2 linked regions of the Homo sapiens genome follow. The protein of the gene in region 1 purifies or fractionates together with the protein of each later gene. This does not show direct contact. Each region holds a gene or a part of one and is shown on either strand. Other genes may lie near its edges.

Region 1 (3,687 bases):
CAGCCTTGTTCCTCCTCCTCTGTGGCTTGCAGGATGGGTGTGGGATAGCAGAGCAGGGGGGTGTGTGTGTATGTGTGTGTGTGTCCTGTCAAACATAATCATAGCCGGACACTAGTGAAAGTAGTCAGACAGGTTTTAATCGGCAACATAACTGACATTTGCAATGGGGAATAGGGTCCAGGCTGAGCTGAGCTCAGGTTCAATTGGCACACAAGTGACTGGGGGTTTCCAAGAGAGAATGAGGGAGCAGGGAGGCAGCGAGTGGGGGCTCAGGAGAGTGGGGGAAGTGAAAAGTTACAGATGGTGGAAGCGGGTGGTCCGTGTGAACACATCTGGACATGCTGACGTGCTCACTGAAGTCAGGAGACAGTGTGTGGCTGTCCTCAGGTGTGGCTGGAACCCACAGTCGATTCTTTTGGCTGCCGTGAGGTTTCTCAGGCAGGCACTTTAAAGGGGACTGGGGTCAGCCTAGGGATGCCACCTTGAGCTGTTAGAAGCTATGTTAGTGGTTGTTCAAGTTGTTATAGGCAGAGGTGAGGCCCAGCCAAGAAGAGGGCTCAGAGGAGCCAGGCTGGAGTGTGGTCGAGGAGAGAACTCTTGGTCAGTGCCACAGCTAAGTGTTGCCAGGAGCACCTGCCACAGCCCAGAGAGCCCCTGGGGTGCACTCAGAGCTCCAGCACCTGCCACGCAGCACACCCCATGCCCCTGGGTCCCTGCAGGCGGAGGCCATGCAGGGAAGACCCCAGGGAAGGCTCCTGTCTCTGATTCCACACTACAGCATATTGGTCTGAAGACAGGGACTCCAAAGAGGCCTCAGAGGCTGCAGGGGGCCCAAGTCTTGTGGAAATGAGATGTGGGGAAAGTTGGGCCTTATTGATGTTGATGTTGTGGCCTCAGCCAGTTCCAATGCTAAGGCACTGGGAAAAAAATCTTATGATTTTTGGAGCACATTTAAAAATAAGGACAGGTTAGGCACGGTGGCTCATGCTCGTAATCCCAGCACTTGGAGAGCCTGAGGCCAGCGGATCACTTGCACTCAGGAGTTCAAGACCAGCCTGGGCAACATAGCAAGACCCCATCTCTACAAAAAAAAATTAGAAATTGGCTGGGCATGGTGGTATGTGCCTTGGTCCCAGCTATTCGGGAGGCTGAGGTGGGAGGCTTACTTGAGCCTGGGAGCTCAAGGCTTCGGTGAGCTAGGATCATACCACGGCACTCCAGCCTGGGTGGAAGAGCAAGACCCTGTCTCAAAAAAATAAGGACAATTTACATAAACAATGTTCCAAGTACCTTTCACACATCACATTGGGCCCCAACCTGTGAGGTGGTGCTGCAGTTGAGGAGCGTGCTTTTCAGAGGAACCTGCAGAGGGAGAGGTGAGGACACGAGCCCAGGGTCTTGACACTGGGATGGGGCAAATGGGGACACAGTTTTTCCTGACCCTCCCCCGCCCCTGCCCCTGGGAGGCCGCAGTCTAGGTGGGTGGGCCAGGGCAGGAGCGTGGATATGAGATGGGGGGCTGTGCTTGGGTGGAGAATCTTCAAGGGAGTGAAACAGTCCAGCTTCTTCGTAGATCAGCGTCTAAAAGGACAGCAGGGGGAAATGCCTTTTAAATTTTTTTTATTAAAAAATGAAAAATTTCCAGAGTTTTGAAAAAATTAAAAATAAAGATAAATAGAAATTGTATAAAGTGGGAAAATAGCAGCAAATAACAATAATTTACACCGAGGGAAGAAGAGAAAGCACGACCCAGCAGATGGAGATTGTCTGTGTGGGGCTCACCCACTGTGCTGTTTCCCCAGGTACCGCGTGGTGGTCTCGTACCCACCCCAGAGTGAGGCGGAGATCGAGCTGAAGGAAGGCGACATCGTCTTTGTGCACAAGAAGCGTGAGGACGGCTGGTACAAGGGGACCCTGCAGCGGAACGGCCGCACAGGCCTCTTCCCGGGCAGCTTCGTCGAGAGCTTCTGAGAACTGGTGCTCCCTGCACCCAGCTCACAGAGGGGGAGGCCGCCTGGGAAGCTCCACGGCACACAGAGAGGGAGCCATGGCGCCCCAAGGGTTCCAGGTCATCTCCAAGGCACCTGGCGGGGGATACCCTGGCCCAGGGTGGGGGCCAGGGACTGTGGAGGTCGTGCCTTCTCCCAAAACCCCCAAACGGAGAGCACACCTGGGATGTTCTTCAAGGAAATGCCCACCCCCTCTGTGGAAACTGCAAAGAAAGCACCTTGAGGAAGAGAGGCAGGTGCCGGCGCAGGCAGGCCTGTGGCTGTGGTTTGCAGCCATGGCAGCGTTCTCATTTACCACCTAAGCAGGGTTGGAGGTTGCAGGAGGTCTGCAGGCGAGGTGGGTGGCATGGGGGCCAGGAGCGCTGGAGATCATCTTTCTGGGCTGCCCTGGGCTTCCCGCGGGGCCCAGGTTGCTCTGTCACCATTCTATATACCTCAGTCACCTGCCGCCCGGCTGCTCAGCAGGGGTGTTTGTGAGGCCCTGGGGGTGCCCCGGAAGGGGCACCCCACCGCCCCTGTTGGGAACCAGAGCAGAATCTGTGGGCTTGTCGCCTGCCAGTAGTATAAGCAACACTTTCTGTTCACCACCATTGTCCCTTGCATTACTTCTTTCTTACAGCATATTTTTAACATAAAGCTGTTAGACTTTATATATTTCTAATAGGTCAGACATTGCCTATTTTTCATACATCTGGTGCTGCCTTTTTGTAAAACTAATAATGACTTGGTTGAGCTTGAAAGAAAAGATGTCTGAGGCGACATCAAAGGGGCAGAATTTTTATATTTCCCATATGGCTTTGGGAGAGCGCCGAGAAGCCGCCATCCCGCACCTCAGCGCTGGCCAGTACTCTGGGGGCTGGCGGGGTGGATCCATTGAGGGGGTCGGAGGGAGCTTGGAAGCAGCCGGTTTCTTTAAACTCTTACCAAAACCCCGCGCTCTGTCTAGACGGTGATGATTATTATTCAAGACCTGGAAACATTTCGAGGAAGGGCCACTATAATTGTCCTTTTGTGTGGCGGTAGAAGGAGCACGCAGGTCAACCCCAGCCGGGAAGGCAAAATCTTCCCTTTATTGCCTCAGAGAGAACTGCAATTAGCATTCTCAGAAGATGATTTCTTGGTATCAAAATGTGCAGTTTCTACAACAGTTTAGATCACCACCACCATTTTTCTTCTTTTTTAAAAATAAATAACTGCTCCCATTTCAGGCAGTGCAAACCTTCATCTGCTGGAGACCAGAGGTACAAGGAGATCAGGGGGTTGCAGCACCGCTGCAGGCTTGCAAGATCGGGGAGTTGGGAGGGCGAGAGAGGAGGAGGTGCAGCTTTGATGCTGGGACCTCCCTGAGTGGGGCTGATGAATGTATATTCATTAGCACCATGGCTCACTTCCCAGGAAGACTGATCAGGAGCCCTTCAGGGACAATTTTGTTCTCAAGATTCACACCTTAGGAACACATTTTTATCACCTCAAAATTTTGATCCATCACCCCTCTCTCCACCTATATTTTTACAAATACCATTCAGACTTAAATTAAGCTGAAGAAACTAGCCTTTGGTAACATAGGGTGTCATTGGTTTTCAGGGATGTAACCAATTCCAGAAATACATTCTTTTGCCTGGCATGAAGACTTTGAAACACGGGCCGCTTATTTTCAGAGTTCCTGTTTTGGGACGTG
Region 2 (3,687 bases), on another chromosome or scaffold:
GTGAGGTATACAAACATAGATCAGAAATAGATCATGCTCGCAGGGAATTTATAGTGTAATTGGGGAGATTAAGATAGATATGTATAGAAATAATTGCGATAAAAAGTTAAAAGCAACTAATGCCATAAAAGAATGGTTTCCATTCTATCGTTTGCCTTCTAGACAATTTATTTGTACTAGCCTGATAGAGCCCTAATCTCTCCTTTAGTGACCCAATTCATATATATGTATATATATGAATGGTTTTTAAGTAGATAACAGAATATTTTTGTTCACATGCAGTTTTTATTTACACTTTTTAATGATTAAGGATAATAGAAATAAAGAGTATTAGGAGGAAAATAATTTTTAAAGCCTTATGACTATATACATGAAGAACCTAGAATTTTTTCCTTTCATGTCAGATGATAATACAGGTTTCCAGTGTTAGAGAATTTACATCATTTGTTTCTTTGTAGGGGAGTGAGTATTAATGTTCTCAGGCATGAAGCAGAATTTTACGGGATCACTCCATTAGGTATGTGCTCTTTTAATATTTGGTGTTTATGATTTGACTCATGTATGAAAGTTGCCCTAAATGAAATGTGTTTATATCAGGTCCTAATTTTTGATGGACTTGTTCAGTGCTTAGTTTTTGTGGATTTTCATAGTAAAAAGATGTTGTCAACTCTGACTTAATTAAAATTTTCCTTTTCTTTCCTTATCCTCTTGAACTAGAGAAAATAAAAATGGAGTACTGTTTTTCTGTTTGCATGTACTCTTGACAAGTTTGCTTTGAAATGTTTTTAGTAAGAAGGCTTCTCTTATGTGAAGAATTGGAGCGTTCCTCTTGTGGCAGTGTCCTTTTTCATGGTTACTTGCCCCCACCAGGTATTTTCACTTTATTAAATCTTTTAAAAAATTCCTTGTATCATTAAGCAAGTACAAGCATATGAATAGGAAAAACTGCTCCTTGATTATTGAGTTTTTTGTCTATAAATCTATTAGAAATGGTAAGAACTTTTGATTTTTATAGAAATTAAGTCACATTATATATTGGAGCAGGGGTTTGGCAAACTTTTTCTGTAAAGAGCCAGATAGATTTTGTGAGCCAGAGGATCTCTGTGACAGCCACTTAACTCCGCTGTGTATACTACATGAAGACTAGGTTTAACTGTAACCACTACAACTTTATTTACATAAATAGCATTGATTGGGCTGGATTTTCCATGGCCCATAGTTTGCTGACCCATATGTTAGAGCACTGGTTGTCAAACTGCTTTTTTGCAAAATTTAAGGAATTCTGCAGAGATAAGTCAGTGTCACCTCAGCCCCACTTTAGTTAGAAGAGCCTGATTTTACCTGTGTTATAATGGACTTCTGAGCAAGATTTCATTTTAAAAAATGTTCCCCTGTCAAATAAAAAATGTTTGAAAGTATGGGGAATTTCAGTTCTAAAGCAGTTAAATTATTACATAGTACCTAACACATAATACCTGTACCATAATTGTAAAGAGTGGCTGGCAGACTGAATTAATTACCCATTAATTCAGTAACCTAAAGCTTATTTATTGTAAACAGTATGACAATACCAGAAATCTGTTGACAGAATTTTGTCTTTGTCTTTGTTTTTTTCATTTTCATTTTATTTTTTAATTGTAATTAAATTATTTGTAATAATTTGCTATATTGGAAGATGTATTTCGGCTTTAATGAAATTCACATTTTTGTTTCTTTGTCACAATGTGATATTTTTAATTTTTGAAAGGTGAACTTAGGAATGTATTTGTTTTCTTCTTCTCTTTATAGGTATTCCTAGTCGTAAAATAAACAACACAGTCAGATCTGCTGATTCTAGGAATGGTCTAAATTCTACAGAAGGTGAAGCCCGGGGAAATGGTACACAGCCTGTTCTCTCTGGAACGGGAGAAGAAACTGTTAGGCTAGGTAAGCAAAGATTACAGAAATAGAAAAAGAAAAATACGTATGTTTTTAGTGCTGGGTGATATTGAGTAATTACTTTTAAAGATTTTTGCCTCATCTCCTTTTTTATCCAGATTTATCATTTATATCTTGGAAAGGTCTCATTTAACACTTAATTTTTATTTAAAATGTTGTGTAATCTTCTATCTTCTCTGAATCTTTAGAACAGGGTTGCCAAAATTTATCTGGTAAGAGCCAGAGATTAAATATTTTAGGCTTTGTGGGCCACGTGTTCTCTGTCAGACCTACTCAACTTTGCCATTGTAGCATGAACACATAATGGACAATATGTAACAAGTAAGCATGGCTGGGTTCTAACAAAACTATTTTTTTTTTTTTTTTTGAGACGGAGTCTCGCTCTGTCGCTCAGGCTGGAGTGCAGTGGTGCCATCTTGGCTCACTGCAAGCTCTGCCTCCTGGGTTTACGCCATTCTCCTGCCTCAGCCTCCGGAGTAGCTGGGACTACAGGCGGCCGCCACCATGCCAGACTAATTTTTTGTATTTTTAATAGAGATGAGGTTTCACCGTGTTAGCCAGTATGGTCTCGATCCCCTGACCTCATGATCCGCCCGCCTCGGCCTCCCAAAGTGCTGGGATTACAGGTGTGAGCCACTGTGCCCGGCTCTTAACAAAACTATTAACCAAAACAGGCAGAAGGCTGAAACTGGCCTGGTGGCTGTAATTTGCCAACCCCCGGTTTAGAATGTAAAATATTTCTTTTTCCAAAATCAACAGGATTTCCTGTGGATCCACGAAAGGTGCTAATAGTAGCTGGCCATCACAACTGGATTGTAGCTGCATATGCCCATTTTGCTGTGTGTTACAGGTAGTGTATAATTAATAATGCTTTGCTTTTACAGGTGGCAGTTTGAAAATTAATTGTGATTTTATATTTTTAGATTGAAAAGCTATTTTTTTTTAGTCATCAAGTTTTTTCCCTGCATATTTTACCCATGTCTGTATCATCTGATTAAGATTTAGTGTACTTTTATTTTCACAGCTAATTTGGTAAATGTTTCTGATAGCCTTTATCTGTTGTAAACATTTAGCAGACAAGTGTGAATTGTCATGTAACTGAGATATCCTGATGTATTATTTATTGCTTATACCTAGCTTCTGAGACTGTAGTATATAATGATGTTAGACAGGATTATTAATGTGAGCTCCCTGATGGTCTATCTCTAATGATTCAGTGTTTTGTATTCTATAGCAAGGGAGAGTACATTGGTCATAAATACCACATTTTGGGAAGTGAGGTAGTAAAGCAGGACAGTTATTGCACAAGTGGTATAGTTTAATATCTAATATGTGAAACTTACAAAGAAGTAGTTTGGTTTTACTAATGCTTACATTCTCAGAGCCTGAGAAGCAATGAAGAATAGTGTAGACCGGTGATTTTTTTTTTTTTAATTGGGAAAGTGATAGGACTCTTAGTTCAAAATCACTGTACTCATTGAGAAATGTTGATGACAGAGAATGGTGTAGAAGCACAAAAGTGGTTGGAATATACTAGCTTAGATTATTATTTCATTTAATTGCAGAAAAATCAAAGATACATAAACTATTTGTTTATCACTGTTGAGTTCGGTTAAGAAAAATAGTCACAATAAGCTGAAAAATATCTAAAATGTCTTCTAAAGTTTACAGATATAGTTTAAAGAATCCCAGATGTATTTTTTTTTTAAAAATCTGAATTTATGAAAGGTTTGGCATGTCTGGTAAGTG

The links.
Region 2: the proteins of SH3RF3 (region 1) and KCTD3 purify together in Homo sapiens (affinity purification with mass spectrometry, with the first as the bait; one large-scale study listed by BioGRID). This does not show direct contact.

What each region holds. Positions count from the first base shown.
Region 1 is NC_000002.12:109,499,701-109,503,387, forward strand, and holds part of SH3RF3 (E3 ubiquitin-protein ligase SH3RF3), read left to right. Parts: intron 1-1,802; coding exon 1,803-1,971; 3' UTR 1,972-3,687. UniProt on the Homo sapiens protein: Has E3 ubiquitin-protein ligase activity.
Region 2 is NC_000001.11:215,577,212-215,580,898, forward strand, and holds part of KCTD3 (BTB/POZ domain-containing protein KCTD3), read left to right. Parts: intron 1-458; coding exon 459-517; intron 518-717; exon of another isoform or gene 718-779; coding exon of another isoform or gene 780-789; coding exon 790-870; intron 871-1,788; coding exon 1,789-1,926; intron 1,927-2,697; coding exon 2,698-2,788; intron 2,789-3,687. UniProt on the Homo sapiens protein: Accessory subunit of potassium/sodium hyperpolarization-activated cyclic nucleotide-gated channel 3 (HCN3) up-regulating its cell-surface expression and current density without affecting its voltage dependence and kinetics.